2 linked regions of the Homo sapiens genome follow. The main gene of each other region encodes a partner of the protein of the gene in region 2 in a complex. Each region holds a gene or a part of one and is shown on either strand. Other genes may lie near its edges. The genes, in order: SF3B2 and SF3A3.

Region 1 (3,814 bases), on a different chromosome or scaffold from region 2:
CTAAAATTTAACAATACTACTGTTTTACTTTAATGACTCATCAATTTTTTTAATGCTTATTTTAAAATAAGAAATTTGAAGACATTCTTGAGATAAAATTATTTCTGAGAGACTGAAGTGAAGCTAAAAAAAAATTATTTCTTTTTTCTTTTTTTTTTTTTTTAAAGTAGAGGTGCGGTTTCACTATGTTGCCCAGGCTAGTCTTAAACCCCTGGCCCCAAGGGATCCTCCCACCTCAGCCTCCCAAAGTGCTGGGATTACAGGTGTTGAGACACCACATCTGGCTGAGATAAAATTATTTCTCTCTGGTCATTCTTAATATTCAGAGACATATCTGGAAACACATTCACCAAACAGTGAATTTGGCTATTTCTGAGTGGTAAAATTGTGACTTGCTTTCATCTTTGTACTTGTCAATTCTGACTGAATATTTTATGATGAGCATGTCAGTTTCTTTAAAAAACAAAAACCATTATTTGTTTTTCTACACATACACATGGTATATGACAAATATTATGTCAATAAAATATTTTTTAAGTAAATAAAGAGACACATGGTGGAGTTAGAGAAGGAAAACAAACAAATTACCTTCCAGTTCAAAAGCAGAAATGGCCAAGAATGAACGAAAGGACAATGCTCACCTCAGGGATGGGCGAGTTCAGCCCAGGGATTTTCAGGTTGGGATACGATGGGGGTGGTCCATATCGCTGCATGGCAATCAGCCATGGGGGAGGGACCTTGTGGGCATTCTGCAGGAAAAAGAGAACAGGATACCATCTGCCAAACCCTATCCCTGTCTCTGCCTTCCACTCCAATCCCCACCAGCCTCTTCGCTGCTTCCCCAGACAGCTAACTGACACTCACTGGTCCTACTGGCATCCCCAAGGAAATCCTTAGCTCATCAGACAGATCTCCTGGCTTCTTCTCCTTCAGTCGTGTCTCGAACTCCTTCCCCTGAGGGAAAAGCAGAGCATGCTACATTGTAGACCCAGACACTCAGTGGGAGCACAATCCTAACGCACATCAGATATAAAATCCCAGTGAGGGCTACCTGGCTCCCACTCTGATTCTCATCACTTCTTTCCCTGGCCAAAGTCGGGGAAGGAATAAAAACCAGGCCAGACTCACAGTGCTGTCAATAACCCACTATGAGAACACGGCCAACGTTAGGACCTGCCTCCTCATCTGTAAAATGAGGGCACTCGACAGGAAGATATGCAAAATTCTTCCACCTCATAAATTCCATGACATCATGGTGACTACGATTTCAAGGATCAGAAAAAACCAGCAATTTCTCTACCACTCCCAATATTAAAAGTTTCCTAAAAGCATCTGCCCCTTGGCCCCTCCATCCCTAAACCACCTACCACAAACTATTATCATTTCTAAGACAGGATACGAAGAGTCTATCAGGGAAAGAAGCCACCAGATCTGCATCTCTCCTCCAAATAGAGCCTCATTTTTAAATTCCATCTCATCCGAGGGTAGTCGATGGGCAATTCTAAGGCTGAGGAACTATCGTAGTTGCTTCAAAAGCCCTCCTTGGCCAGGTGCGGTGGTTCATGCCTATAAACCCAGCACTTTGGGAGGCTGAGGCGGGTGGATCACTTGAGCTCAGGAGTTCCACACTAGCCTGGGCAACATAGCGAAACCCTGTCTCTACCAAAGATACAAAAAATTAGCCAGGTGTGGTGTGCCTGTGGTCCCAGCTACTCAGGAGGCTGAGATGGGAGGACTGCTTGAGCCCCCAAGGCAGAGGTTACAGTGAGCCGAGATCCCACCACTGCACTCCAGCCTGGATAACAGGGTGAGACTCCATCTTTTTTAAACAAACAAACAAACAAAAAAAAGCCCTAGACAGTCTCAACCCCAAGGCCCAGCCTGACCTCTCCCAGCCCCCTCCCGAACCTCATAGTACAGGTCCCCATGGATGGTCAGCTTTGGCTTGGTCTGCCACTTGAAGAAGGCATCATGCAGTTTCTGGTAGTCGATGTCAATTTTGCCCATCTTAGGCCGAACTTTCTCTCGCATTTTTGACTTCATGGTCTTCTGTTCTTCCTGTGGAGAATGGCAGCAAACAAGCCTTAACAAGTACTCACCAAATTCATGTAGAGAATCCAGCTCCCAACTCCAAATGAGATCATGGGAAGCCTCAATTATCTCACCCTGAAAGTCATCAAAATCCTTCCTGCTAAAACCTTTCAAAATTACATAATCCATACTGAACAAAACAGACTATACAATATCAGCCTCAGCCGTGTATATCAATAACTAGTTTTTAAACCATCTCATCAAGAGATGAATCTCAACAGTTCTCTGGAAAGCAGAGACTTCCCCATGTTCTTTTCTACCTCCTGAATTCAAAGCATTTAACTAAAAGCTTTAAAATTAAGAAGTTACACAACCACCACGAATCTCTAGCCACAAAGTACATCTGAGAAAGGAGTCACCAGGTGAGCTGGCAAAGTGAAGGCAGAGGGGAGGAAGAGCAGAGGAGGAAAACAAAAGGATAATTAGACAAGTAACAAGTAGGTGGTAGGTGGGTTTCAAACCAGATTCCCATTTTGAAGCACACTGCTATGAAGGATGGGGACACCCGGGGGCAGGTCTGAGCCCTGCCAGGCCCTCACCTTCTCCTGCAGGGCCTCTCGCATCTCCTGGATGCCTGTGCGTTTGATGAAGTCTGGCAGCTCGAAGGGGGGCTTCTCAATGCCCCGTTTGCCCTGCAGGTATTTGCGCTTAAAACACCAGTGGCGTGGCACAGGCACAGAGTTCCGAGTGGCCTTGAGGTGAACCAAGAGCTTAGGGTCCTGCGCTGTCACATCGTGCATCTCCACGACATCGGGCCGAGCCACCAGCTGGAAAACACATAGTAATGCGTGTTCTCGAGAGCCCCGACTTCTCAGTTCTGAAGCTCTTCTTCCTCAAAGGACCCAAACCCAAATCACCCACACCTCCTTCAAAGAACTCCTTTTCACCTCCCTGGCTCCCCAGGTGGTCTCCCAGCTGGGCTCCAGGGCCTGCAGGATCCTCTCAGGTCTTACCTGCTTGAGTTCAGCCACAGTGAAGCGGTTCATTCGGCGCAACTTCTTCTTGGACAGCTTGGGGGCTTCTGGCTTCTTTTCCTAGAACAGAACAATCAGCCCTTTTAAGCAGGACTCAGATGTGAATGAAACTGCCCAACCCACCCCAACCTTAAGCCACCAAAGCTCTGTAAGAGTTCACCATGGTCCCTCTCTGGATGCATCTCAGCCACCTGTGCCCAGAGTCCCTGCTTCCCACCAGGAGGGCTGGGCCTGACCTGCTCGTCATCACTGCTGTCATCATCACTGTCCTTGTGCTCCTCTTCAAATCCCTTCTTCTTGGGGGCTGCAGAGTTCTCCAGTTTGTCAAGTTTCTCTGGCTCCTTCTCTTTCTCCTTCTTCACATCATCAGTGAGCTAAGGAGGCAGACAAGGTGAAACCCCTGCCCTCTGAGCCCCTTCCCAGTTCCTAAGGCCAGCACTAAAAGATGCCTGTTCACCGCTGCCTCTCACCCACCTCTGAGCCCCTTCCCTGTTTGGCACTGCCCCTTCCTAGTGTGCTCTCCTTGTACCTTAAAAGCCTCAAAGATCCTCTTAAAGAAGATAAAGTTGGGCTCGTAAATTTCAGGTTCTTCAGTCACATACTCAATCTCAACATCAGCTGCTGGGGAATCAGAGCCACGGGACCGGGTTGAGTCTTTCTCCCGGTCCCCAGAGCTCTCAGAGGACACCCCTCGCACCCGCTGGGGCTTTTTCTTCTTCTTTCGGTTCCTACGCTTCCGGTTTTTCTGT
Region 2 (3,814 bases):
ATGGCAAAACCCCATCTCTACACAAAATACAAAAAATTAGCTGGGCATGGTGGCACACGCCTGTAGTCCCAAGTACTTGGTGGGGCTGAGGCGGGATCCATCACTTGAGTCCAAGAGGTCTAGGCTACAGTGAGCCAAGATCGCGCCACTGCACTCCAGCCTGGGTGACAAAGTGAGACCCTGTCTCAAAAAAAAAAAAAAAAAAAAAAGATTTATTTTGGCAAAGGTAAAATATGCTTGCTGTATTGATAATGGACTGGGTACAATGGCTCATGCCTGTATCCCAACACTGTGGGAGGCCGAGACAGGAGGATCATTTGAGGTCAGGAGTTTGTGACCAGCCTGGGCAACACTGCAAGACCCCATCTTTACAAAAAAAGACAAAAATTAGCCAAGTGTGGTGGTGGTATGCACCTGTAGCCTCAAATACTCAGAAGGCTAAGGCAGGAGATCACTTGAGCCCAGAAGTCGAGGTTGCAGTGAGCAAAGATCATACCACTGCACTCCAGACTGGGCAACATGGTAAGACCTCATCTCAAAATAAAAAAAAAAGTATTAATAAATAAATATGCTTCTTGTTTTCACTGTAGAAAACTTTCATTTTGAATAGTATTTCATTCCAAGAGAGCATATCACCTCTTTAATATTTACATAAGAGTTTTAAAACACAAGGAAGACACTTTACAATGGCTTCATGTCTGCTAGTTCCAGCCTACTGTCCTGACTCACTTCGAGAATCAGAACCTCTCTGCCCTTTCCCAGGCCTTACCTCAGATGCCTTCAGGTTAATGTACTTGAGGTAACAGTCATGGAGATCGAGATAACGACCATATCCCTCTTCATCTGTGAACTCCACCAAGTCTGAGGGAATCAGATACATCAATGATTCAGTTTCTACAGACCACTCTCTTGGACTTACCTTTTCAAATGGACTGTGTGTTCCTAGTTTCCTGAGGCAGCACTTCACCCAAATGTCTTCCCTTTGCTCACAATATAACCTCCAATAAGTTAAGTGAGATCAAAAGTGAGTTTTCTCTTACAAGGTAACAAGGACTGACTCATTTTAGTATTGTGAACTAAAGTGAACAATCCTTGGCTTTCCAAGCCAGTAAATTTGAGGTAGGAGAGAACAAAATGAACATTTTGCCCAAGACCAACTTAGGATGTCACTCTAGCCCAGAAACCAGCAAAGACAAAACCAGCAAGAAATCCTGGCTATAAATATCTCTGAGGCCATGGCTGCAAATCTGAGCTGTCATTAACCTGTATTTTTGCTGGTGCTGAATGAAATTTTCACCCCTACTTACTTTGTGCCTCTTCACTTGGATTCTCTCGAGCCTTCAGGAGTTCCTCAAATTCCACTGACATTGGCACACAGATCTGAGGGGAAAAGTAAAAGCTCAGGTGGATTTTTCTTTTTGCTTTTGAGATGGATTCTCACTCTGTGGCCCAGGCTGGAGTGCACTGGCACAATCTTGGCTCACTGCAACCTCTACCTCCCGGGTTCAAGCGATTGTCCTGCCTCGGCCACCCGAGTAGCTGGGATTATAGGCACACACCACCACGCTTGGCTAATTCTTGTATTTTTAGTAGAGACAGGGTTTTGCCATGTTGCCCAGGCTGGTCTCAAACTCCTAAGCTCAAGTGATCTGCCCACCTTGGCCTCCCAAAGTGCTGGGATTACAGGCATGAGCCACTGTGCCTGACCGCAGGCGGATTTTTCAATGTAAAAGTTGCAAGATCACAGAAATGAAATACACAGAAAGTTGGACTTCTGATGATTTATTTGGCCTTGATTTTTCACTAGGAAATCTACTACTGTTCTCCAATTACCTTGTTTTTCCCCGCTTTTTTGTACTGTTTGAGTAAAACCCACTAAAGTAACACATGCTCACAAAAACTCAAAAGTCCACCTTTATTAATTCTCCTGAGAACAGGTGACCACTGTTAACAGAGCTTTTGCTATGCCAGTGGTTCCCAAACTTTGCTGCACATTAGAATCACCTGGGGGAGTTTTTTTTTTAAATCCTGATGCACCTGATACCAATTAAATCAAAGGAGGGCAGGTATCAGTACTTTTTAAAGATCCCCAGGTGGCTCAAATATGCACAAAGTTTGGAAAACAGTGCTCTATGTATTTAAATATATGTATTTGTACAAGTACATTCATGCCTGCATAGGTTTTTGTTTTTGTTTTTTTAACATAAAAGACTTGCGTCTGACATTTAGTATATCTTGGGCATCCTTCTAATCAGTTATTTAAGCATTTATTCCTCATTACCTTTTGACCATGGCTGGAATAAGGTTAACACATCAGAATGGTATTCATTTATTCTCCCTTGGTTAGCAGAAGACCTCATTCTCTATCCTCCAAGGGGGCTATGTGTGTGAGGGTCCCTTCATTTACCTCCGCGCTATGTATTGCAATAAACAGCCTCTATTTTTTGCTGTTTTTAGTCTCTTCCTTTTTCCCTGTGCTCCTTCAAATAAGTATGCTTCTCTGTCTTCCCCAATACCCTCCTGTTTCTCCCCTTCTTTTTCCTACCAGACTTTTTTTTTTTTTTTTTTTGACGGAGTCTTGCTCTGTTGCCCAGGCTGGAGTGCAGTGGCGTGATCTCAGCTCACTGCAACCTCCATGTCCTGGGTTCAAGCGATTCTCCTGTCTCAGCCTCATGAGAAGCTGGGATCACAGGCGTGCACCACCATGCCCGGCTAATTTTTGTGTTTTTAGTAGAGAGAGGTTTCACCATTTTGGCCAGGCTGGTCTCCAACTCCTGACCTCAGATGATCGACCCGCCTCGGCCTCCCAAAGTGCTGGGATTACAGGCGTGAGTCACTGCACCTGGCTACCAGCCTTTCAAATGCATGTTCCATACTCCATACTTCTACTTCCCCATTACCCATCTTTACCTTGTGACCAGATTTCCATTCATACTACTTTAATGAAGCAGCAATCCTGGCAGATATAAATCAATAACAGTTGACACCATGACTGCCTTTCTGAAACTCTCTTTTGCTTAACTTCAGTAAGGCAACACCACCTGGAGTGGTCATGTGACCTTTCTGATGGAAGCCTTCCCAGGCCCTTTTTCTCTTTACCTTATTATAAGTGAGCTCCAGGGCATATGAGGGCCGGGCGCGGTGGCTCATGCCTGTAATCCCAGCACTTTGGGAGGCCGAGGTGGGCGGATCACAAGGTCAGGAGATAGAGACTATCCTGGCTAACATGGTGAAACCCTGTCTCAACTAAAAAATACATAAAATTAGCCAGGCGTGGTGGCAGGCACCTGTAGTCCCAGCTACTCAGGAGGCTGAGGAAGGAGAATGGCATGAACTCGGGAGGTGGAGCTTGCAGTGAGCCGAGATCATGCCACTGCACTCCAGCCTGGGCAACAGAGCGAGACTCCATCTCAAAAAAAAAAAAAAAAAAAAAGACAGAGTTAGGAACACAATTTATTGGGGAGAGTAATTTCTGTGAAAGATAAAAAGGAAGAGAAAGTAGGATTAGGACAGGATAGCCTAGACCACAATGCAGATTGGACAAAATCTTGACCAACCCAACGGGGAGCCATGGAGCAAAGATTATTCATCAGAGGAGTCTCAGAGTGGACCAAATTGCTGGGCCCTAGTACCCATACTGTGCTCAGTCACTGGCTGGGAGCTGCCCACAAAATGTGGCCTTGACTTCTTTTTTTTGAGACAAAGTCTCACTCTTGTCCCCCAGGATGGAGTGCAATGGCGCAATCTCGGCTCACTGCAACCTCCACCTCCCAGGTTCAAGTGATTCTCTTGCCTCAGCCTCCTGAGTAGTTGG

The links.
Region 1: SF3A3 (region 2) and SF3B2 share a complex: the UniProt entries of both Homo sapiens proteins name them as parts of the 17S U2 SnRNP complex.

What each region holds. Positions count from the first base shown.
Region 1 is NC_000011.10:66,058,826-66,062,639, reverse strand, and holds part of SF3B2 (splicing factor 3B subunit 2), read right to left. Parts: intron 3,811-3,814; coding exon 3,595-3,810; intron 3,440-3,594; coding exon 3,302-3,439; intron 3,126-3,301; coding exon 3,045-3,125; intron 2,859-3,044; coding exon 2,631-2,858; intron 2,059-2,630; coding exon 1,909-2,058; intron 955-1,908; coding exon 865-954; intron 750-864; coding exon 642-749; intron 1-641. UniProt on the Homo sapiens protein: Component of the 17S U2 SnRNP complex of the spliceosome, a large ribonucleoprotein complex that removes introns from transcribed pre-mRNAs.
Region 2 is NC_000001.11:37,983,400-37,987,213, forward strand, and holds part of SF3A3 (splicing factor 3A subunit 3), read right to left. Parts: intron 1,381-3,814; coding exon 1,308-1,380; intron 862-1,307; coding exon 770-861; intron 1-769. UniProt on the Homo sapiens protein: Component of the 17S U2 SnRNP complex of the spliceosome, a large ribonucleoprotein complex that removes introns from transcribed pre-mRNAs.